2 linked regions of the Homo sapiens genome follow. The protein of the gene in region 1 purifies or fractionates together with the protein of each later gene. This does not show direct contact. Each region holds a gene or a part of one and is shown on either strand. Other genes may lie near its edges. The genes, in order: ASIC5 and BLVRA.

What was found.
Region 2: the proteins of ASIC5 (region 1) and BLVRA purify together in Homo sapiens (affinity purification with mass spectrometry; one large-scale study listed by BioGRID and IntAct). This does not show direct contact.

What each region holds. Positions count from the first base shown.
Region 1 is NC_000004.12:155,838,740-155,842,556, reverse strand, and holds part of ASIC5 (bile acid-sensitive ion channel), read left to right. Parts: intron 1-202; coding exon 203-350; intron 351-3,687; coding exon 3,688-3,744; intron 3,745-3,817. UniProt on the Homo sapiens protein: Forms bile acid-gated sodium channels and may play a role in bile acid-dependent absorption and secretion by epithelial cells of the bile ducts. Displays high selectivity for sodium ions but can also permit the permeation of other cations.
Region 2 is NC_000007.14:43,803,377-43,807,856, forward strand, and holds the end of BLVRA (biliverdin reductase A), read left to right. Parts: intron 1-299; coding exon 300-471; intron 472-3,600; coding exon 3,601-3,859; 3' UTR 3,860-3,966; downstream 3,967-4,480. UniProt on the Homo sapiens protein: Reduces the gamma-methene bridge of the open tetrapyrrole, biliverdin IXalpha, to bilirubin with the concomitant oxidation of a NADH or NADPH cofactor. Does not reduce bilirubin IXbeta.

The sequences.
Region 1 (3,817 bases):
TATGTTTAAGGATCACTATTATACTTAGCTTCAGGGAATTTCAGGTCAATAGAGTAGGCAAAATAGACAAATGTAACCAATTTTGGTTTTGAAAATCAAAGAGCTCTGAGAGGAAAATAAAAATGTGTACCAGCTTCTTGATGGAAAATAAGTGAATTGATGTAAACACATCTCCTGAACCCAGTATTTATCTTATCTTAAGACAGTTCATCAAGAATACCCTTGGGGAGAATGCAATCCTAACATCAAGCTGCAGAATTTTAGCAGCTACAGCACTTCTGGTTGCTTGAAGGAATGCAAAGCCCAGCACATAAAAAAGCAATGTGGATGTGTGCCTTTTCTTCTTCCTGGTAAATAAAGACTAACTGCCCCCTTACTTAACTAGACAGTTAAGTGTTTCTTAGAGGGTTACAAAAGGTCTGGGAGAAATAGAGTATTGAAATACAAATGGAATATTAAGTATTATTAAGTGTAATTACAGATGTTGCTGACCCATTCACAGAAAAATTATTATATTCTTAAGCCTGTTCCTTCTCTTTGCAGACTAAAATGACAACTAATAACAAAGTCACCAGAAGTTTAGTCCTAAATTTCTTTGAATTTTATGTTTATATTTACTTAATTTGAAACATAGCAAATCAACATATCACTAAATTGTTTTCCATTCTTCTGAAATTCTACACTGGAAAATTATCCATTTGCCAGGTACAACTTCGACTGACAAATTTTACATTATAAAATCATCGCAGAGATTTCTGGAAGAGAAAATTGCGATATCAGGGTGGGGCCCCAATACTTACTCCCAAAGGCTAAAATTTGATGGTCTCAAATATCTAAAACAGCACACCAAGATTTTCTTAATTTTGAAAGAAAAATTAGATCATGGATATGTCTTACCAAGCCTGAAGATTTCACTGTTGAAAAGTTATTTTCTTTGGGACTGTAAAATTAACTTCAGGCCTCCTTTTCATACAATTTGCAACTTTTCCAGAACCATGGGTGAGAGGCAAGCATTCAAGGAAGCAATGGAGCAGGGTGAATAAGAGCTGGATCTCAACCAGGCTGCTCATGTCGGCTCTACAATTTCTCCCCTAGGTGATCTTGAACAAGTGACCTAACCTCTCTCCTCTGCTGTCAAATGGAGGAGGGGATAATAATCCCATCTTATAGGGTTGTTGTAAGAATGAAAGGGGTATGTAAGTGGTTCAAATAGTGCCTGGCACAGAATATAGTCTATGTAAATGTCAGATATTTGTATTCAGGTCTCTTACATCCCCCTCCCACAGCATATCTAGAAAGATATATTGTAACACAATCTACCTGCCAAAATATTGTAACTGCCCAACGGGCTCACCATGCCTGCTGCCTAGACAGAGCTGATTTATCAAGACAAAGGAATTGCAATAGAGAAAAACTAATTCATGCAGAGCTGGCTGTGCGGGAGATTGGAGTTTTATTATGACTCAAATCAGTCTCCCTGAGTATTCGGAGATAAGAGTTTTTAAGGATAATTTGGTGGGTAGGGGACCAGTGAACCAGTGAATCAGGGGTTCTGATTGGTGAGATCAGAGATGAAATCATGTGGAGTTGAAGCTGTCTTTTTGCGCTGAGTCAATTCCTGGGTAGGGGTCACAAAACCAGATGGGCCAGATTTTTGTTCTGGGTGGTGCCAGCTGATCATTGGAGGCAGGGTCTGCAACATATCTCAAGCACTGATCTTAGCTTTTACAATAGTAATGTTATCACTATAAGCAATTTGGGGCGGTTTAGAATCTTGCACCCTCCAGCTGCATGACCCCTAAACATAATTTCTAATCTTGTGGCTAATTTGTTAGCCCTATATAGGCAATCTAGTCCCCAGGCAGGAAGGGAGTTTATTTTGGGAAAGGGCTGTTATTGTCTTTGTTTCAGAGCTAAACCATAAACTAAGTTCCTCCCAAAGTTAGTTCAGCGAACGCCCAAGAATGAACAAGGACAGCTTGGAGGTTAGAAACAAGATGGAGTCAGTTAGGTCAAATCTCTTTCAATGTAATAATAAAAGTAAAAAATATATAAAATATAAATATAAAATATGTATAAATATAAAATATATATAAAATATAAAAAATATATATTATATTATATATAATATAAAAAATAATAAAAGTAAAAAAGATATAAATTTTGCAAAAGTGGTTTCATTATTTTCCAGAGGTTTCCATAATCATCACATCCTTCTTTTTAGTATCCAGATTATTGATCTCTGGCCACTGCAAAAACTGCTGTTCTATATAAAACTGCTGGCTCTGGCTCTGATTTCTCATTCCTAATTTATTGGCAAAGTTGCTGGAAAGAAGTCTGAATTGTTTCATGCAGAATAATGTTGACAATTTTAAAAGTTATGATTATTAAACCAAAACCTACTGGCTAATGTGGACCAGAAACTAGGCAAGGTGCTATATAAAACACAAAGAATGATATCTGCATGAACTTTAGCATATATATCAAATGCATTCAGGAATATGATCTTATTTGGTTAGATTCTCACACATCCCTTTAAGTGTACTGATATATGAATAAACGGAAGATTCTAAACGTTAAACAAATTCGCTGAGGTAATTCCACTAACAATTTGAGGAAGCAATCTCCAAAACAGCTTTTCAGATATTGGTTATTTCCAAAATTTCATTGTTCTTTTGTTTGTTTGTTTTTATTTTTGTTTTCTGTGTTCCATCTACCATCTTTTTTTTCTGAATTGCTCTTTATAATGGAAGAAATATTATTGCCAGAGCAAGAAATAATTCAGAAAAATGAGGTTTTTTCCTAACTCAGTGTTGGAGGTAGTTTTTTTTTTTTACTTATTGTATTTTATTCATAAAGAGCACTTCCTTACAGTTAGCCAAACATTCCACAAATTGTCCGCACGTTGTAAGTGGACAATCTCCTTTGGTTATTTTCAAGATTACTGACTAAACATTGTGGCTAACTGCTGAGTCACATGGGCTATAGCAATAGACAAATATTGTATTAAGGCTAAAAGACTAAGTCTTTAGAATCAGCCGTAGGAGTAAACCCAGCTCTGATACATAGTGATTTTCTACTTATCTCACAATCTATAGTGGGTACTTAACAAATATTGGTACTTACCTGCCCCCTCCCCATCCTACTTCTGGAATGGCAGTCTGTCAGGAACGTGTGTGTGTGTGTGTGTGTGTGTGTGTGTGTGTGTAAATGGATAGAGGGAGCAGGATGGAAGATGTACAGAATGTGCCAAGTTTCCCCTAACTGTGTGGTCTTGAGCAAGCCACTCTTTCTGAGGCTTAGTTTCTTTATCTGTAAAATGAAAATTCTCATATGACAGGATTGTGAACCATATCAAATGAGATGATAACTGTGAAAGTAATTTTAAATTTGAAAACTACTCACATTTGAAAATTATTATTCCCGCTTAAAGATTTTAGAGTGATATAGACAGATGGAAAGAGGTATGGAAAGAAACAAAAGCATTATTCTTCCTCCCAACACATATTTTCACTGGATACTAACTTGATTCCATAGTTTTGCTTATGAAAGAATAGATGTTCATATAGAAGAATGGGTGGGTGGATGAATGGATGGATAGATGTAGGTAAGAAAGGTATTTTTGTCATTAGATCACTTATTTTACAAAATGTAAAGTCTCTATATGTTACACTTATTATTTTTAAGGATATGGGATAGAATGTGACCTACAAAAGTACTTCAGCTGTGTTTCTCCTGTACTTGGTAAGTGCTTAATTTACTTTTATTTTCAGGATTTATATTAAAGTTGCTCAAAGTAATATAAGACATTAAGTCA
Region 2 (4,480 bases), on another chromosome or scaffold:
ACTTTTTTATTATCCTGTTTGGCTGGATTGACTGCTGTTTCCAGTAGAATGTTTTACTAAAACTCAATTTAATAAACAGGAAAAGACAGAGATGCTTTTATGATAGAGTTGAAGTTCAGCCACCTGAGTTTTCATCAGTATCATTAATCACGTTGCCTGCCTACCACATAAGGCAAGGTCCCATTGTACTGATCACTCGGCCACATCTTTTCACACCCCCGCCACCCCCACCCCCCTGTCCTGCTTTCCACTTGGCATTCCTGCTTCCCAGTTCCCACAGCATTTGTGATTTCCCACAGCTGGCCCGTTGGAAGAAGAGCGGTTTGGCTTCCCTGCATTCAGCGGCATCTCTCGCCTGACCTGGCTGGTCTCCCTCTTTGGGGAGCTTTCTCTTGTGTCTGCCACTTTGGAAGAGCGAAAGGAAGATCAGTATATGAAAATGACAGTGTGTCTGGAGACAGAGAAGAAAAGGTAAGTCATGAGAAGCCATGAGGAGGAGGAAATTTAAGGACATCCTAGTACATTTGCAGGTATGATCCAAAGGGAGCCCCGAGGGGCTAGACCCTCACTCCCAGCTCCAGAAGGGCTGTCTGCTTCTGCAGATGGAGTGCTGAGATTGCACTTGTGTTGCCTCATCTCATCCTCTCAGCAGCCCTGTGAGGTAAAGAAGACAAACATAATCCCATCTGCCAGTCAGTAGACAGAGGCTTACAGAATGCCAGCAGGTTGCCTAAGTCATGCAAGTCATTCATAGCAGATTAGTAGTGGAAATTACATTACCTTGGCTGGGCGTGGTGGCTCAGGCCTATAATCCCAGCACTTGGGGAGGCCAAGGGTGGTGGATCACCTGAGGTCAGGAGTTTGAGACCAGCCTGGCTAACATGGTGAAACCCTGTCTCTACTAAAAATGCAAAAATTAGCCGGTGTGGCGGTGCATGCCTGCAGTCCCAGCTCCTTGGCAGGCTGAGGCAGGAGAATTGCTTGAACCTGGGAGGCAGAGGTTGCAGTGAGCTGAGATCAGGCCACTGCATTTCAGCCTGGGCAACAGAGCGAGACTCCTTCTTGAAAAAAAAGAAAAGAAAAAGAAATTATGTTAACTCTGTGACCTGATTTTTTTCCTGTGTTTTCTTATGAAAGTTTTCGGGCATATTGTGAAGTTGAAAGAATTTTTAAGTAAACACCCATCCACCTACTCCCTAGACCCTGCCATTAACACTGTACATGTTCCCCGCAGGGCCACACATTCACCCCTCAGTGCAGCCAGAGTGTGAGGGTCTGTGTTTCAGCTTTAGCATCCCATCACCCTGTCACACTGTTCCCAAAACATTCTGACTTATTTCTCATACCAGGTCTTTTTTAACAAAAGCACATTCATAATTTTCCTCCCAAAGCACCTGGGCTCTGTAAATTATTTAGAACAGTAAGGGTTTTAGAGTGTTTCTGGATGCCTTTGCAGAGAGGTGGGTCTCCTGGTAGTAAAAGAAGCAGACACTGGGTATTTTAAAAAGAAAAAAGAATTTGAGTTCCTGAATGAAGCCTGATCTAGTCCATTTTGAGGAGTTTCTTCTTCGCTAGGAAAAGGCAGAGAGGCCTGGCAGATGAAAGCAAAGCACATGGAACTTGGCAGTGCTCCCTATGGAGTGACCAACAGTGGTGGCCCGGGCTCTGGTGTGGCCATGTGAGTGTTAGGATTGCAGCCGTGGTCAGACCTATACACAGACAGTTGTAGCACCCTGTAATTAGAGGTAAAGATACTGTAGGGTGCTGTAGGAGCACAGGGAAGGGGAACCTGGACTAGGTCAGCTCATGGTTCTGATGGGAGGCGGTGCCTTGTTTGGTCTTGAAGTTGAGTAGAAGTCAATGAGGAAGCAAGATGTTGGGGAGGCAGAGGCTGACTCTCTCTCTCTTTTTTTTTTTTTTTTATGAGACAAAGTCTTGCTCTGTCACCCAGGCTGGAGTGCGGTGGTGTGATCTCAGCTCACTGCAACCTCCATCTCCCGGGTTCAAGTGATTGTCCTGCCTCAGCCTCCCGAGTAGCTGGGATTATAGGCGCCTGCCACCACGCCCGGCTCATTTTTGTATTGTTAGTAGAGACAAGGTTTCACCATGTTGGTCAGGATGGTCTTGAACTCCTGACCTCAAGTGATCTGCTCACCTTGGCCTCTCAAAATGCTGAGATTACACGCATGAGCCACTGCACCCAGCCCTGGCTCTCATTTTTGCACAGGAGAGGCAAGCATCAGATGAGGGATTGGGACAGAGAGCAGTTAATATAATATAATAGTAACTTCTTAAAATCATAGTACTTTCCGTGTCCCAAATTGCATTTTTAAATTTTTTTATCTATTTATTTATTTATTTTGAGACCGGGTTATGAGACTGGCTGATTTTCGTATTTTTGGGTAAGATGGGTTTTTGCTATACTGTCTAGGCCGGTCTCAAATTCCTGGGCTCAAGCGATCCACCCACATCAGCCTCCACGCCTGGCCACAAACTGCATTTTTATCTCACAATGTCACAGCAAGATAGGTAAAGCTGTATACTTATTACCATTACTTATTTTTACTAGTGAGGAAATTGAGGTACAAGAAAGATCTTGACATTCTGCATTCCCTCAAATCCCAAGATTCCATATTATTTAAAAGGACATGAGAGGCCGGGCACAATGGCTCACGCCTGTAATCCCAGCACTTTGGGAGGCTAAGGCAGTTGGATCACCTGAAGTTGAGAGTTCAAGACCAGCTTGGCCAACATGGTGAAACCTTGTCTCTACTAAAAATACAAAAATTAGCCAGGCGTGGTGGCAGGTGCCTGTAATCCCAGGTACTGGGGAGCCTGAGGCAGGAGAATCGTTTGAACCTGGAGGCAGAGGTTGCAGTGAGCCGAGATTGCACCACTGCACTCCAGCCTGGGCAACAAGAGCAAACATCTCAAAAAAAAGACATGAGAAATTTTCTTAGGCAGACTACGTAGAATACCTCAAGTTTATTTTTATTCAGTGCCAAAATAAAAGTTAATCTTTGTTGCCATCTCCCAGAACATTTGCTAGACTGTACTATGAGCTTTTAAAACTAGTCATGGGAGGCCAGGTGCAGTGGCTCACGCCTGTAATCCCAGCAGTTTGGGAGGCCAAGGCAGGTGGGTCTCTTGAGGTCAGGAATTCAAGACTAGCCTGGCTGACATGGCAAAACCCCATTTCTACTAAAAATATTTTTTTAAAAAGTAGCCAGGCATGGTGGCAGGCGCCTGTAATCCCAGCTACTTGGGAGGCTGAGGCAGGAAAATTGCTTGAACCCAGAAGGCAGAGGTTGCAGTGGGTCGAGATTGCACCACTGCACTCCAGCCTGGGTGACAGAGCAAGGCTCCATCCCAGAAAAAAAAAAGTCACTGAATGAATTCCCCTGCCTGATGGCAAAATTAAATTAAAGACTGTTTGGCTGTGAGGTTGACACAGTCACCCACAGCCTCTGGGAGGCTGGTGGCTGCAAGGAGGATGGGTGCCTGACAAGGACATGTTACCAGGCGGTCTGGTGCCAGCAAGCACCCACTTGTGCTCTTGTGTAATCTCTAACATGATTCTTTTGTCTTTTGTCTTTGCAGTCCACTGTCATGGATTGAAGAAAAAGGACCTGGTCTAAAACGAAACAGATATTTAAGCTTCCATTTCAAGTCTGGGTCCTTGGAGAATGTGCCAAATGTAGGAGTGAATAAGAACATATTTCTGAAAGATCAAAATATATTTGTCCAGAAACTCTTGGGCCAGTTCTCTGAGAAGGAACTGGCTGCTGAAAAGAAACGCATCCTGCACTGCCTGGGGCTTGCAGAAGAAATCCAGAAATATTGCTGTTCAAGGAAGTAAGAGGAGGAGGTGATGTAGCACTTCCAAGATGGCACCAGCATTTGGTTCTTCTCAAGAGTTGACCATTATCTCTATTCTTAAAATTAAACATGTTGGGGAAACAAGAATCTTATTGTTATGAGCTATGTTGGGATATTTGGGGTTAGGGGCTATGCAGTGGGGACAAGGCGAGAATGAGCGTTGGTTGAGCTGAGCTAAATGCTTTGTATGTCTGATTTCACTTACTCCTCCTAACAGCCCTATGAGATGAGTACTAGCAGGCCTCTTTTTTTTTTTTTTTTTTTTTTGAGAGTCTCACTGTGTCACCCAGGATGGAGTGTAGTGGCACCATCTCGGTTCACTGCAGCTTCCACCTCCTGGGTTCAATCAGTTATCCTGCCTCAGTCTCCCAAGGAGCTGAGGATTACAGGCGCGTGCCTAATCCTGGCTAATTTTTGTAGTTTTAGTAGAGATGAGGTTTCGCCACGTTAGCCAGCCTGGTCTCGCTCGAACTCCCAACCTCAGGTAATCCACCTGCCTCGGCCTCCCAAAGTGCTGGGATTAGAGGCATGAGCCACCATGCCTGGCACCAGGTCTCTTTTCATTGTATACTAGAAAATGTTGTTTGAACAGAACCCTCCG